Regions from separate parts of the Homo sapiens genome. Here region 1 is linked to region 2. A link means that fine-mapping ties the variant in region 2 to the expression of a gene that starts in the linked region. Tissue or cell type: gastroesophageal junction. Region 2 holds a variant in brackets; the other region holds the start of a gene. All regions are shown on one strand. Distances are between the middles of the regions.

Evidence for each region. PIP is the estimated chance that this variant, and not a neighbour inherited with it, causes the effect.
Region 1: PHF21B starts here. The variant in region 2 is fine-mapped to the expression of PHF21B in gastroesophageal junction (GTEx, PIP above 0.99).

The regions. Positions count from the first base shown.
Region 1 is chr22:45,005,094-45,013,093 of GRCh38, forward strand. PHF21B (PHD finger protein 21B) reads right to left here and starts at 4,912. Exons shown (of 13, transcript NM_138415.5): 1 at 4,403-4,912; 2 at 3,452-3,517. The coding sequence starts at 4,456. RefSeq lists an enhancer at 3,291-3,892.
Region 2 is chr22:44,931,513-44,939,512 of GRCh38, forward strand. The region is part of intron 2 of PHF21B (PHD finger protein 21B); the gene reads right to left. Among named protein-coding and RNA genes, the nearest start is that of PHF21B, 74 kb to the right of the region's middle. RefSeq lists enhancers at 725-1,226, 7,324-8,000. The variant T/C (reference allele first, on the strand shown) is at 4,425.

The DNA.
Region 1 (8,000 bases), 74 kb after region 2:
TTACGCTGGGTCTTTAACTTACACAGAAGGGCTTGTTGCTTGACAATTTAGATAAAAATGTTACTGCCCCTGCATGTGCTGCAATCTCATGGTGTAAACCACTGGAGCAGCTAATGGAGTCTTCACACATCATATCTTGTTAAAGAAGAGGGCCCTCCACTATCTGAATCACAGCCCAGCAGCAAAGTGCAGCCACACCTGGGAAGGCAGCTTAGCTGGCCTGGGCCTGGCCACAACTCATCAGCTCTGACCAACTATCCTATGCCTCATTTTTTTTTTTAGTGGAAAATATGAACTTCATTTTCAAATAGCAAGGTCCTATGTAAACTCACTTCCTGTTAATTCCCTAGTCTCCGAATGGTAGGACAAAAACTAGACAGTTACACAGAAAACATATCTCTATCTACCCTGACCAATAAGCTATCTACCACTATGAGTCCTTTAAACACCTTTACACACTTGTCCATGTTTCTTAAAGTAACTGAGAAAAACATCGCGCTAAGGGCATGAATGAGAAATTCATGGTTGGGCCCTGAAAGACAGGATTCCGCTGCTGGCGTACTGCTAACAGACCTGGATAACGGGGTCATCTGTTCATTTTACTATCTAGTTCATCATCCACATGTGCACTTTTAATTGAAACTTAACCTTTATATCCGATGTTCCAGCACAGAAAACATCTCTGGAGGTGGAGATGGTATAAGCGTTTCCCTAAGCGACTCTCTAAAAGAATTCTACCTTTAATTTTCTGTTGAGTTAAATAAACAAACTGTGACACACTTGCCTTTTCACCTCCACTCCCCCATTTCGGCTCCTTCTGGGCAGGCTCTGGGGTGACCAAGTAGAGGCCTCTTCAAAACCCTAGTTCAGCCCAGAGTCACCTCCAAAGGCTTGTTCATCGACCTTTCCCCAGCTAAGCTGCCAATCACCACCAAACTCTCCCAAGGAGAGGGAGAGGGGAGTAAATGTTAAGTCTCCCTAACTCATTTCATAGGTGACCTCTGAAAGATTTCAACGCAGAGCCTGGGAAAGACAAGGCGGCTTTATTAGCATGCTGAACCACGGCCGCAGCCCCCTCCCCTCCCTCTTTTATGAGCCCTTGTTATATAAAATGCCACAAAGGGAAATGGAAAAACAACACCCTCGCAGTTAAAAACACAAGTTCCAATGGCCAGGCCAAATCCTGGCTGCTTACCCAATGTTGTTTAGTCATTTAAAAGGGAAACATTTCTAAAAGGCCGGAGAAAAAAAGTTTTCCTTGCTTTCTTTCTTTTTAAACACACACTCACACACACAAAAAGATGGAGGTCAGTTCGCAAGCAAGCCTCCTTCCCGGAGTTCAAATTTAAAGGCAAAGGCAGCCCGGAGTCGGAGAGCTCCTTCCCGAAGCTGCCGCAACCTTCAAACAGGATTTTCAAATGTTTCTTTCGGCTTATCTAAATTCCGGCATGACAGATAATAAATAGCGACTCATTTACTATCATCATAAAAATTTAAACAGCCTCGAAATAGTTGCTACAATACAGAAGAAATGATCAAACCCAAGCTCAGAAGAGTCATTCCAAATAGTAAAACTACTGCCAAGCAGAAACATAAAGAGACATTGTTCCAAGAAAAGCTCCTAGGTTATTGGATTTTTTCTTCTTCTCTCTCTCTTTTAAATCTTCTAGGAGCGTACGAGTCAACAACTTGCCGTTTTACCCAGTGAAAAAAGGGCTTAGTAACCCTCAGCTATCACACTGGACCAGATCTGGTGGCAGATTTTTTTTTTTTTTTAAAGAAAGTATCTGATTTGATTCTACGCAGTGATTAAACAGCTTTGTGCTCTGCGGAAAAGGGTCTTCCGACCCCTCCCCCTCCAAAAATGGCATCAAAGCAATCAAAATGGTAATGCAGGGCCTGGGTCCCCTCCCCCCGCCAACTCCCCGACTTCGCCGGGGCCGCGCGCCGGGCCCCCCTCCGGCGGGAATGGAAGCTTCCACTCCCGGACGGGGGCGCGCGGCCGGGGGCGGGGGGGCCGCGGCACCAACTGAAAAGGGTTAGCGCATTTGTCCCAAGCCTTCGGTCCAGCCCGGCGGCCCAGACCAGGCGCGGGCCGCGGCACTGCCATCTTCCTTTCAGCAAGCCCGGCCCCCCCCAAAACCCGCCACTCGCGCACGCCCCCTCCCATCACTTTTTAACTTTAAAGACTCGACACGAACGCCCGGCCTCCGAATTCTCTCTCGCCAGGGTCACCGGCAGCCGCCCCAACCTCGTCCACGTCTCTCCCCTACGCCAGAAAATCCCCCGGGGGAGGGGGCGTCCGATCCGGCGGCCCGGGCTGGGGTGGGAGCGCGGGGGCAGGCCCGGGCGGGGGCGCGCGGGGGCGGGCCCGGAGCTGTCCAAGTTTGGCGCTGGCGGCTGCGGCCGGCATTCCGAAGGAAACGCGATCGATGGCCGGGGGCGCGGCGCGGGCGGGGGCGGGGCGCGAAGGAGGGAGGGAGGGGGCAGCGGAGGGAGGGAGGGGCGCCGCCGCCCCCGTGCCCGCCACAGCGGTGCCCCCAGCACGCCATTGGCTGCGCCGCTCAAAGTTCTCGGCTCGGGGCTGCGCGGGGAAGGGGCGGGTGTGCGAGCGCGGGGAAGGGGCGGGTGTGCGAGTGCGGGGAGGGGGCGCGGCGGGGGAGGGGCAGCGGAGGAGGGGCGGGAGCCAGGGGGCGGGGGCGCGCGGCCGGCCGGGCTCTGGCGGCGGCATCTGTTCGTGGTGCTGAAACCCCGAGCGCTGAGCTCAGCGCAACTAAGTCACAATGGACAACTTTTCCTCCCCGGAGGGGGCCCGGAGGGGGGGGAGCGGTCGCGCCTCCGACGCGTGGGAGCTTCTCAGGTGTCCCCAACTACACCTAACGCCCGGAGCCCAAAGTTGGAGCAGAACTGGGGAGTCCCGGGGGCGCGTTTCTTTTGTTCCCCGGGAGCTGGCGTCAGGTTCCAAGAATAAAAAGTGAAGCTAGGGAAGTGGAAGGTGGTGGGGGGGAGGGAGCCTCGAGGAACGATTTCAAAACGAGGTTTGCCACGGAACCCAGAAATCGCTTCCAACGAGTTTGGTGTCCAGGCCCCCACGGCCGCCCCCCTCCGCCCCCATGGCCGCCTCAGCGCAAAGCGGGGGACTCCGAGCCGGGAGAAATCGCCACGTTCCAAAAACATGTCCACCACCTCAAAATGGACGCCGGGCCGCGCGCTGCCTTTTAAGTGAGCTCCTCTCTTCGGCCCCCGCAGGGCCCGGCTCTCCCTGCCGCCTCCGAGAACCCGGCTCTTTCTTTCCAGGAAAGGGGAGGGGTGGGGAACTTTGAGAACTGGAGACAGACCCCTCTGGGAGTCTGAGCGTGCGTCGCCCAGGCTGGCACTTTTTAGGGCGCCGCCAAAGTGCCCAGCCACCCTCCCGCCCCATCCCAGGGGGGGCCGCGATCCCATCGCTTACTTGTTTGTCGCTGAGCGCGGCGATCCGCGGCTGCCTTTCGTGGAGCTGCTTCTTGAGGTCGCCGTTCTGCGGAAACACGGAGGAGCGGGCTCAGGCAGGCCACCCGGGGTCAGGTGCACCCCAGCACCGCGGGCCGCGGCACCCCCCGCCCGGAGCCCCACGGGCGGGGCCGGCCGCAGCGCACCCCAAGTTTCCCGGGCCGCGTCCTGCACGCGCGGCGGCCGGGCAGTGCCGCGCGGGGCCGCTTACCTGTGGCTGCCGCCTCATCGGGGCAGCTCGCGGGGCGGGGCGGGGGCCGAGGCCACCCGGCGGCGCGCCCCGAGCCGTGCAAGTTTGCAGGCCGGGGTGCGTGTGCGAGTGAGTGTGAGTGTGAGTGTGTGCCGGGGGAGGGGGGAGGAACAAAGAGCCAAGTAAACACGGCGAGTCCGTGTCGAGCAAAGCTCATAAATATTCAAGTCGCGTCCTAATCTCCCCAACACACACACGCGCACGCCGAGCCCCGCTCAGGCTCCGGCCGCCACGCCGCCGCTCGCCAGCAGCGATCGCCAAAACTACTTCTGCACACCGGGCAGGTTCGCCCGGGGCGCGGGGGCCCGAGGGGAGGCCGGAAGGGGGCCTATTCGCACTCCCCTCCCCGGGACCGGCTCACGAAGGGGCCCCCTCCAGGCACCCTCCCAGTCATGCAGACCCTACATCGCTTAAGAGAAGACTCCAGGCTCGGGTCCCACGCGTCCTCGATCCCGCAAACTGTGCAGGACAGCGCCAGGGGCAGGCGGAGGGGAGCCCAGAAGGGGGTCCGCGCGTGTGCTCACTCCCTCGCCCCCCGCCCCCGGGCAGGCTCCAGCCTGGAAGACCCAGAGACCCGGAAGAGAGGATGCTGGGCTCGGGTCCCCCGACCCCCTCACCCCGCAACACACTCCCCGGCCCCGGGCCCGGCCCCCGGCCACCTACCTGGTGGCGCGCGAGTTCCACGGCGAGCGCCTCGGGCCGGCTCTGCAGCTCCATCCCGGCAACTTGGGCAGCACTTTGCGCTCACTTTGGCCCGGGCTCCCGGGAAGTTGCGCGGCTCCGCGGGGGCCAGAGCGGGCGCGGGCGGACGCGGCCTCCGGGCTGGGTTGGGGGGGACACGAGCCCCCTCCCCCACGGCCGAAAGGGAAGGGGGCTGGCGAAGGGGAAGACAGGCTTCCGGGCGCCGCGGCGCCGAGCCCTCGGCTGCCCCAACTCCTCAGGCTGCCCGGCAAGTTGCGCCGGGTCCCCGGGCTGCCGGCGCGGCCCGGAGCATGGCCCCCCCGGCGCCGGGAGCCCCGCGCAGCCCCGCGCGCGCCCGCCCAGCCGCCGCCGCCGCCGCCTCCTCCCGCGCGAGCCTCCCGCGGGCAGGGACTATATTTCCTCCGGCGCGCGCGCCTGGATCTCGTTGGGCCTCGGCAAAGTTGTGCCTCGGCACGATGCTAATTCGGCAGTGCCCGGATGGAGCGGGCCGGGGCGGCGGGGGGCGGTGCCGGGACCCTCAGCCCGCCGCGCCCCGCCCCCGCCCCGCCCGCGCCTGCGCACTGCCGCCCCGCCGCGGCCCGGCACCCCGAGCGGAGAACAAAAGTGGCGGTGGACGGGGACGCACGGTCGCCGGCTCCGGGGACTGCTCGGGCCGGGCGCTCGGAGAGGACGACTGCGGAGTCATCCTCTCCGTCCCCGGGCCAACCCGGGGAACGCGGCGCCCCCACCCCCTGCGCCGTGTAACGCCGGGATCAGGACACTTTCCGCTGGGAGGCTGCGAGTCCGTGTTTCCATTTCTCCTCACCCTGGTCCTCGGCTCCCTCCTTTCCCCCCTCCTCCGCCTCCCTCTGATATTTTATTTAAATTCTTCCGTCCCCTCCTGTCCATACCAGCGCCGCGACTTGGGGGATTAAATTAGTCGCGTCGCCACATTCCCCCGCCGCCTGATGGCCTCCGTGTTGTTTAAACAGCAAGAAAATTGATCTCTTGGCTCTTCCTTTAATGATTTTTTTTTACACGATTAAACTCTCAACAGATGTCACTGGACATTTTAAGACTCTTGTTAAGAGTCGTAAACAGGCCCGGTCAATGCGACCTAAAACAATTATAATTACAGCTGCGGAGGTCGCGTTTCAGAACCCCCAGCCGCGCAGCCAGGAGGTTAATGTCCCAGAGTCACTGTCACCACCTCGGGGCTGCCATCTTCATTCAGGTCGGAGTGCCGGGTGCCCTGTTGGCAGCAAACTGGCACGTTTGAAACACGCTGGGGAGAAAGGGTGCAATCATATGTCAAAGTAAACGTTTAAGCTGTTAAGTCGTTTTAACTTCAGATTCCTCTCCGGCAGCACAAAAAATACCCAAGCAAGCACCATCAGCAAATGTCCCTTTCAACATATGCCAACAGGTCACACATTGCTTTTGTTGGCAGAAGTTATTGGAATTCCCCCTTTTCTTTCTTTTCTTTTTTTTTTTTTTTTCAAGTGAGGACCCCAGTGTTGTTCTGCTCTCTGTTAGGGAATTTGTAATAAATTACGTGTTTGGGACCCCCAAACACAGATGGCCCCTCATCCCACAACCCAGCACCTCGCCTTCAGAGCACGACAGAGTGAGACTTAGGATATGAGTAACTATGCAAAAAGCAGAGGGGCATGTAGATGACCCTTACTTTAACCCAAATTAGTTAACAGAAACTTGCAAACAGCGCTTTAAGACTCCATAGGAGGCCGGCCGGGGGCGGTGGCTCACACCTGTAATCCCAGTACTTTGGGAGGCCGAAGTGGGCAGATCACGAGGTCAGGAGTTCGAGACCAGCCTGCCCAACATGGTCTCGACTAAAAATACAAAAAATTAGGCATGGTGGCGCAAGCCTGTAATCCCAGCTACTCGGGAGGCTGAGGCAGGAGAGTTGCTTCAACCCAGGAGGCAGAGGTTGCAGTGAGCCGAGATTGCACCACAGCACTCCAGTCTGGGCAACAGAGCAAGACTCTGTCTCAGAAAAAACAAACAAACAAACAGAAAAGACTCAACAGGAGGAGCCACTACCCTCCGGCCAGCATCTGCCTGAATCTGTGTGGGCCGAAGATGACCTGAATAACCTCTGTTGATTTAATTACGTAGGTTAAATATGTGGGTTACGGTAAGGATCATATACATGCCCCTCTGTTTTTTGCATAGTTACTTACTGTGTGAGTCTCATTCTGTCGTGCAGGCTAATGTGCAGTGGTGAAATCATAGCTCACCACTGCCTCCACCTCACCTGCTCAAGCAATCCTCCCACCTCAGCCTCCCAAGTAGCTGGGACCACAGTCACACCATAAGCCAACACTGGTTAATGTGGATGCAAAACTAGCCCGTGTTTGAAGTGGTCGTGATTCCTTTGGTTTTGCCCCAAGCAGGGAGAAGCAAGGTTCCTCAAATGCAAAACAAAGAGGCTGACTCAGGGTGCCCCAATAGGTACCCACTCCTCCCACTTCTGGGTTTAGCCCGGGTCAGGGTGGTGGCCTCCCTCCTTAGTGCTTTTGCTGGGCTGAACACCAGCCCAGGAAAGTGGACTGCCCTGGAGACCCATGCTTGGAGAGCCAGAGAGAAAGTGTGCAGAAAGAGGATTCCTACTGTAATCTCTGTAAATGCCACTGGCTTCTTGGTAAAAATTCAGAGTAATTTTATCAGCCACGTAGGGTAATTAAATCAACAGAGGATATTCAGGTCATCTTCAGTCCACACAGTCTCAGGCTGATGCTGGCCAGAGGATAGTGGCTCCGACTGTGGAATCTTAAAGCACTGTTTAAGTGCATGGTGTAGCAAAAGATCCGACAGAGACAGCAGAGACACAGGGCCCCTGTGTTAAACACAGAGCGAGAAAAATGACTGACAGGCAAAGGAAGGGTTAATTCTGAGAGGGGTGGTCTGAGAGGGGCTTGTCAAGAAGTAACTTGAGCAGAGCCTTGAGAATGTAGTAATACTGTTTGTTCTGAGTTTTACCATCCACATGGCACTCTTCATACCTGTTGTCTCCTGCCCTCGTTGAGTTCCGGGGGTAGGTCTGGTATCCCTATTTTACAGGTTAGAGGACTGAGGCTCAGGGCATTAGGTTACTTACAAGCCCTGTTGCCTGGAATTGGACCCACAGACTCAGGCAGCAGAGACCTGGATAGATGTGTAGCCTCTTCCCCGTCAGGGCTGGGAGATCTGGGCCAGTGGCTGAGGATGGATTTGCTTCCAGAGAAGAGCAGGCATAAGCCATGGGCCTGGGGTAGGCTGCAGGAGGGATCTCAGGGGGCCTGCAGTGCTCACTGGAGGAGAAAAACAGGACAGAAAAGATGGCAGGACCAGACCCCAAGGTCCTACAACACCATGCTGGGGTTTTAAATGTGTTATGTGGACAAGGGGACCTGCCCAAGGTTTCCGCACAGGGGTATGAGACATGACCAGGCCTCTGCTCAGAGATGACCTGGTGGTAATGTGAAGGATATGGTGGAAACTGGATGTGGGGGCCAGTCAGGAGATGGGGGCCATGGTTAGTGAGAGAGGCACCTCTCTTGAGATTGGGGAGGGGGAG
Region 2 (8,000 bases):
CCCGTTCAGCGGCCCTCGGCGTTGCAGAGCAGTTTGTTTAAGTTGAAAGGATGTAATTTTATGCTATTTAGCAAAAAAACACACACTCTGAATGGCATCATGAACTAAGGATTGGGGGTTGTGATCTTGGGGGGGGGGTGTCAAAAAATGGTTGTGAGGTCCCCCGTGACCACAGGTGCATGTGTAGAGGTGTATTCTGGAAACTTCTGCACGGAAGTGGCAGCCTCTGAGGTCACGCTAGTTCTGCCGTGGAGGGTGTCCGTGAGACCAGCTAAAACGGCCACTTCTGCATCTACTCAACTGGAAAACATACCATCTGGAAGAGATCTGGACTCCAGGGGCCCAGGAGCCCACCAGGAGCCTCCTGTGCAATCCCTCCCACCGTGGGCCCTGCTCTCAGAGAAGGACTGGCACAGCCAGCAGCCTGCTGGGAATGTCCAAAATCCAGGGAGGGGCTGGACAGGAGGGACATCTCTAAGCTGCGTCCCCCAGGAAGGAAGGAAGGCAGGGCACAGGGAAAGACGCAGCCTTGAGGCCTTGGAGAGGGTGGGTGAGGCCGTGTCACTCAACAGAGGACCCGGGGCAGAGGCTGGAGGCCTCGAACCTCCACTGGGAAGACCCGGAGGTTAGTTTTCCCTCTACTCATCTGTTTCCTAAAGATGCAGCAAAATCTGTTCTTTAAGAGGGGCCATGGGCTTGCTGTAAGGGCTGCCAGGAGAGGGCAGATTGGGGGGCGAATGCCCCACCCCAGAGAGGAGAGGTGCTGCCTCTCTTGAGCCTGAGGTAAGAGGAAAAACACAAGTGGTTGGTACTTACTCGTCCCTGTGTCACAGACTGCTCACCCACTATCAGAGTGTCCTTATTCCTTCCTAGCCAGGGGGCCCTGAACCCCCAACCTGGGCCCTTGGATCTGGAGTGGCCGCCACCACCAGGCACACGTCTTCCAAACAAATCACAGTAGCAGCAAAATCCAATCGATGGTAGTGCCTCTAGCTGCCTGTCCCCACTGACCTCCAGACCTCTGTAAAATAGACGGTCATTGAGAAGATCTAATTCCCACAAAAGATGGGTTCACACAGTCCCGCTGGCCTCAGCTTCATCATCCCCACCTCCGACGGCCTGGGATCTAACTGAGGGTGCACCACGGAACGCTGATGACGGCCTGGAATCTGAGGGTGCACCTCCGCACCTGCACCACGGAATGCCGATGACGGCCCAGCAGGTGCTCCTCTCTCTGCAGAGGCCTCCTGGAGCTAGCCTTGGTGTGGGCAGGGATGCAAGGGTGGGTGGACCCCAGTCACCCCATCCCCAACCCCTGGCCCTCCAGAGGAAGGGCCCATTTTACTTCCAGTGAATGGCACAGAGCTTAGGCCACAGCTCACTGGATTTGACAAACATCTACACCCAAGTAACCACCGTGCAGACCAAGATACAGAACATTCCAGCAACCCTAGAGGTGCCCACAAGCCCCTCAAAGGGGGCCCCGCATTCTAACAAGGCACTCGCCAAGGAGAGCAGGTCCTGTCCTCGGGGACAGACTTCTGGTTGGATTGGCAAATGCTCCCGCCCCGCTGTGGAAACAGCTTCAGGTCTCTTCTATTTCTTTTTTTTTTTTTTTGAGATGGAGTCTCACTCTGTCACCCAGGCTGGAGTGCACTGGCACATCTCGGCTTGCTGCAACTTCTGCCTCCTGGGTTCAAGCGATTCTCCTGCCTCAGCCTCCCAAGTAGCTGGGATTACAGGCATGTGCCACCACGCCTGGCTAATTTTGTATTTTTGGTAGAGACAGGGTTTCTCCATGTTGGTCAGGCTGGTCTCGAACTCCCGCCATCAGGGGATCCGTCCGCCTCGGCCTCCGAAAGTGATGGGATTACAGGCGTGAGCCACTGCGCTCGGCCTCTTCTATTTCCTGAAGCCATTGGCACTGACTAAACTCAGCAAGTGTTCACTGCACACCTACCCCGTGCTGGGTCCCTTGTGCACAGATGAGAGGTTCTGCCCGCGATCTGGGGAAACAGACCAGAAGTGAGCATCAGAACGTGCTGCCCGCAACTCAACGGAAGTGCACGGGAAGGTCTCGGCTACATAGAAGGGGTAAGCGTTAAGTGGGGTGGGGGAGCCGTCTGAGGTTGGTCACGCACCTCCATGCCTAGTTCATCTCCACCATTCCAGGAGACGAGTATCTGGAGCTCTTCGTGCAGATAAGAGAGAGAGAGAGAGAGAGACAGACAGACAGACAGAGAGACAGAGACAGAGAGACAGACACATGACTGCCCCAAGCAAGTGAGGAATGAATCTGTGTGTACCCTGCACCGCGAGGGAAGGGTTTTCCGGGCACAGTAACTGAATACAAATGATTTACACAACCACAGGGAAGGCTCTGGCAGTCCCCAGGAGACAGGCCATGGACTCGTGAAGCGTCCTTGTCTATTTACTGAGATCCTGCCATGCTCAGCAGTCGCTGCATTTCCACGCAGTTTGAGGGACTTCCTGGTGAAAACTAACAAGAAAATATATGGCATGTGTAACCACAAGACCAGAGGGGCCCTTCTTGACCTCTGCTTCCTCTCCTCTGACGTGGGCATGGCAGCCCGTCCCCTCCTGGGGACTGCTGACCCAGTGGGTGGTCCTGGTGGCTGCCACAAGGCAGGGGGCCTTTGCACGGGGCTCAGAGTCCCATCGGCCACTTCCTCCTGACTCTCAGGTGCCGCTGGCCCTCACCTGCACCTCACCCACCTGCTTCCCCTGTCCTGGAGCGTGGCGGTGAGGATGTTAGAACAGCCTGGTACCCAGCCACCCATCACCGCACGCGACCTAAGACAAGACAGGCACATAGAGGAGCGATGACATCATCACAACAAACATGAATGAGACTCCTTACAGACGTCCACATCCAACAGAAGGGACTTCCACGAGCAGGAGTTTTTTTCAGGCCAAGAAGGGACAACATCGTCCCAGGCAGAGAGGGACAGTCTAGAGGTATACCAGGATGGCGTGGTCAGGAACAGAGCCCTCCCCTGCCAGGGCGTCAGGTCCATCTGGGAACGGGCAGGTGTCAGCACATGGACAGACCACACCCATCAAGCTAAGCTGTCTCGACTCTGCAGGTAGGCACTGGGGCTCTAGGAGTTTCCAAGCCAAGGGTAACATCACGTGGGCCCATAACTGGAGGGTGTAGGGAGTCCTGGAGTCCCCTGAGTCTGGGGTTAGAAGAACTAAAGGTCCCCTCAGCCAGAAGCTTCTGATTCGTCCAAAGTCCCCACTGCACCCACTTCTGCAAAGTGTCTGGGATGGCCACATCGCCTGTCCCTGTCTGGTCCTCACTCTTTCCTGGTCTGGCTGCTTAACTCCAGACCCACCGAAAGCTCAGCAGGCCCCACCAGGCCATCCTGGGAAGTGTCCCAGCCCTCGCTGAGACCTTCCAGGAGCGTGGGAAGAGAAGACATGTGGCGCTAGGCTTTGGAGAGGAGGACAGTCCCTGCTCTGCTCCAGAAGAAGTTCCCAGGGCCTTTGATATCTCTGTGGCTGGTTAAACACACACGCTCATGCAGTATATTCACTTTCATCAAGAGAAAAAGGATCACGGCAATCGGTCCAGTGGTCACCCCTGTCCCCGACACACTCCCTCTGACCTGCGTCTAACTGGAAGCTTCAGGAACATAGCCCAAAGATCTGAGAGCAAACCCCAGTCCTGCCACCTAAGGGTTATGAGACCCTGAACAAGTTACTCAAACTCCCCGAGCCCCAGTTTCCCTCCTCTGTAAACAGGGAGAACTAACGTTCACACAGGTTTGCCCTGACAGTTAAAACAGAAGCACATGGCCGGGCGCGGTGGCTCACGCCTGTAATCCCAGCACTTTGCGAGGCTGAGACGGGCGGATCACGAGGTCAGGAGATCGAGACCATCCTGGCTAACACGGTGAAACCCTGTCTCTACTAAAAACACAAAAAATTAGCCGGGCGTGGTGGCGGGCGCCTGTAGTCCCAGCTGCTCGGGAGGCTGAGGCAGGAGAATGGCGTGAACCCGGGAGGTGGAGCTTGCAGTGAGCCGAGATCGAGCCACTGCACTCTAGCCTGGGCGACAGAGCAAGACTCCGCCTCAAAAACAAACAAACAAACAAAAAAAAAACAGAAGCACATGGCTCACACCTGGCACCTTGGAGGCCCCAAGAAACTGGCAGGTCTCATGGGAGAGGGCAACAGGGCCTTCTGCAGCTGTGACTTCAAGCTGTTTAACCTCCTGAGCCTCAGTTTCCTCATCTGTAAGATGGAGATGTTGATGCCAGCTTCACAGGGGGAGCAGAGTTAGCGAGACTAGAAAAGTGTTCAGCTCAAGAAGGGGTGGCTCTGCCCTGTCTCTGCCCGCCTCGGGGAAGCTCCAACCTCGCACGAACCCACTCTGGGCTGGGGCCCAGAGCTGAGCC[T/C]GGCGCCACGCCGTGCTGCCCAGGAGACACACCACATTCTGTTCTCTCTGCTGGGGTATTTTTAGAAGGAACAGCACTTCTAACTGTGCAAATAACGTGTTGAAAATAAGCTTTAGATTTTGACTTAAATGTACTAGGAGAGGCGGAAACATTCCTTGTCCTCCAAATACCGTGGAGAACATCTTTTTGGAGGGTCCTGAAGAACCCGGCTGCTGTCTTCACTCCTGGGATGAATGGGCCAAGCCCCCTCCCGGGAGAGCTACGGAACGGGGCTGTGGGGTCCGCCTTGTCACCTGCATGAGCCCTGGAGTGCTCCTCCCTGGCCATGTCCAGTGGAGACGGCACAGGGGAAGCTGCAGGTCCCGCCTGGTTCTGAAGGCGGCTCCTTGTAGAGAGGCCGCAGCCTCAGGCCGACTGTCTCTCTGGCCCAGCAGAAATGCTGGCTCCTGGCCTGTGGCCCTCATCTCTCCCTGTATACCGGCAGCCCTGTCGCCTCCTGTCCCCAGCCCCTCTCCTTCGAGCTCCAGATCTGCGTGTGACATCCCACCTGGATGCCTCGCTGCCCACTCGAGACAGGACCGCCTCCTGCCATCCGTTACTGGTGAGCCCTTGCAAGTGGCTAACCTGAGCTGAGACGGGTTTCAAGTGGGACCTTGAAGACTCATGAAAAGATATTAAAGTATCTAATTAATATTTTAAAAATGAAGTACATGCTGAAATAATATCTTGGACATATTGGATTACATAAAATAATTATTAAAATGATTTTCACCCCCCCAGGTTAATTTCACTTGTTTCTTTTTACTTTTTTTATTGTGGCTTACCAGAAGATTTAAACTTACACATATGGCTCTCACTGCGCTTTTATTAGACAATGCTGTTCTACAGGAAACTTGTAATTTAAGACAAAAGTTGTGGACATCCACTTTCTTTCTTTTTTTTTTTTTTTTCCTGAGATGGAGTTTCACTCTTATTGCCCAGGCTGGAGTGCAATGGCGCAATTTCGGCTTACTGCAACCTCCACCTCCCGGGATTGTCCTGCCTCAGCCTCCTGAGTAGCTGGGATTACAGGTGCCCGCCACCACACCCAGCTACTTTTTTGTATTTTTAGTAGAGGTGAGGTTTCACCATGTTGGCCAGGATGGTCTCGAACTCCTGACCTCAAGTGATCCAACTGCCTCGGCCTCCCAAACTGCTGGGATTACAGGCATGAACCACCGCACCCGGCTGAACATTCGCTTCTGCTGAAGAAGTGGAAGGATGAGAAAACTTTAACTCCATGGTAACATCAAAACACACCCAGACAAAATAAAAATCCTATTCATCCCCAAGAGCAGTGACTACGAGAAAGCCTTGAAGGACCAAGTTCCAGGGAGAAAGGAGCCTCAAAGGCTGGGCAGAGACGGAGACATCACAGCCAGGCGGCCACCAGGTGTGAACACAGGTGCACACTCAGCACAGGTGCAGGCCGCTGAGGACGGAGACCCAAGTGGGCTGAGCTGGGCCATCACGGAGTAGCCGGGTCTCTCACAAACCACTGCAGGAGTGGGAGGCAGTGCGAACACTTCAAAAAATAGTTGGGTCATTTCTTACAAAACTAAACACACACCTGTGCTCTCTGACCCAGCAATTTCACTCCTAGGTGTTTACACAAGAGAAATGAAAACCTGTATCCCCAAAACATCATGTGCATGAAAATTCGGAGCAGCTTTATTCATAATCTCTTAAAAGGGAAAACAACTCAAATGTCCATCAACTGGTGAGTGGGCAAACCTACTGTGGGACCCCCACGCCACGGGATGCCACTGAGAAACACGCAGGGAAAGAATGACGAATACTCTCGATGACACGGAGGAGCCTCATAGCACTGCGTGGAACGAAGGGAGCCCACACAAAGGCCGCAGGCCTCCCCGGACATGAGGCTCAAGAAGCAGCAAAACTAATCCCTGGTGATGAAATCTCAACAGCGGGTGCTCTGCGGGACGCATCGCGCAGGTGCAGAATTTTCTGAGGTGATGCAAATGCTCTATTTTGGAGTATAAGTTACCTGGGTGTACACAACTGTCAAAACTCATCCAGCAGTACAATCAAAATCTGTGAATTTCAATGTATGCAAATTTTATCTCAAATTTTAAAAATCTATGTATTTTATTTTTGAGACAGAGTCTCGCTGTGTCACCCAGGATGGAGTGTAGTACCTCGATCTCGGCTCACTGCAACCTCCACCTCCCAGGTTCAAGCCATTCTCATGCCTCAGTCTCCCGAGTAGCTGGGATTACAGATGCCTGCCACCATGCCTGGTTTTTTGTTTTTTTGAGACAGAGTCTCACTCTCTTGCCCAGGCTGGAGTGCAGTGGCGCGGACTTGGCTCACTGCAACCTCTGCCTCCCAGGTTCAAGCCATTCTCATGCCTCAGCCTCCAGAGTAGCTGGGATTACAGGCACCTGCCATCATGCATGGTTGATTTTTGTATTTTTAGTAGAGACAGGGTTTCTCCATGTTGGCCAGGCTGGTATCAACTCCTGATCTCAAGTGGTCCGCCTGCCTTGGCCTCCCAAAGTGCTGGGACTACAGGCGTGAGCCACTGCGCCCAAAAAATCTATATATTTTAAGAAGGACAAGAGCTGCAGCTCCAACCCTCATAGAAAGGCAGGGCCAAGGGGGCAGCTAGAGGAGCCCAGCTGGTGCACAGACCTATGCCCTCTCAGGGGCAGCACTGATAGACCCTCATTATGGCAGCTGCATGGCTAAGATGCTTCATCTGGAATGGAATCAATATTCATAGTTATGTCAATGAGGGCCTGAAAAATAAGGTGCCATCTCTAGGAGGAGACCCAGGACCAGGATCAGGAACAGGTTCTGGGTGGCACTGAATATGGGGCAGGAAATCTGGATGCGCCATTATGGAAATAAATGCACTCTGGCCTCACTGATGACCAGGAAGGCACTAAGGAAGGACTCGTGTCTCGCTTCTCTGCTATGCATTGATAGCACCTGGACCTGCAGAAAAGCAGGAGCTGGTTGAGGACTGAAAAAGACCAAGGACTTCACAAAACCTCCACCAGGCTGCTGGGCTGCACACACACGGCGCCTCCAGTGCGTGAGCTCAGAGCCGGCACCGACCATCTGCAGCAGCTGCACAAGCGCAGGCCCTTCCTGCCTTCTGCCAAGACCCCTTAGGAGCCTCCAGTAGAAAACTCAAGATCGGCTCAGACAGGGCTGGGGAAGAGGGAGACTCCCGCTGAGCCAAAAGCAGGCTGCTGTGATGAGCCAGGGACTGCGGGAAGCTGCACGACCCATAGAGGCAGGAGACGCTCCTTCACCCACGGCTGGGGAGACTCTGAAGCTCCAGGGTGCAGTTAGGTAAGTGGAGAAGGAGAGAGGGCTGTGGGTAGAACACGTCTGAGCTCTGCCCCAGGACTGCCATGTGTGACTGGTGTCCCCACCTGAGGCCTTACCTGTCACCTTGCAAAGTTGCCGCGAAGTTTCAATGAAATGCAGGAAGCACTGCGCACTGAGCAAATGCCAAGGTTCTCCCACTGGACCTCCCACGAGCTTCCCAGGTGGGGGCGGCAG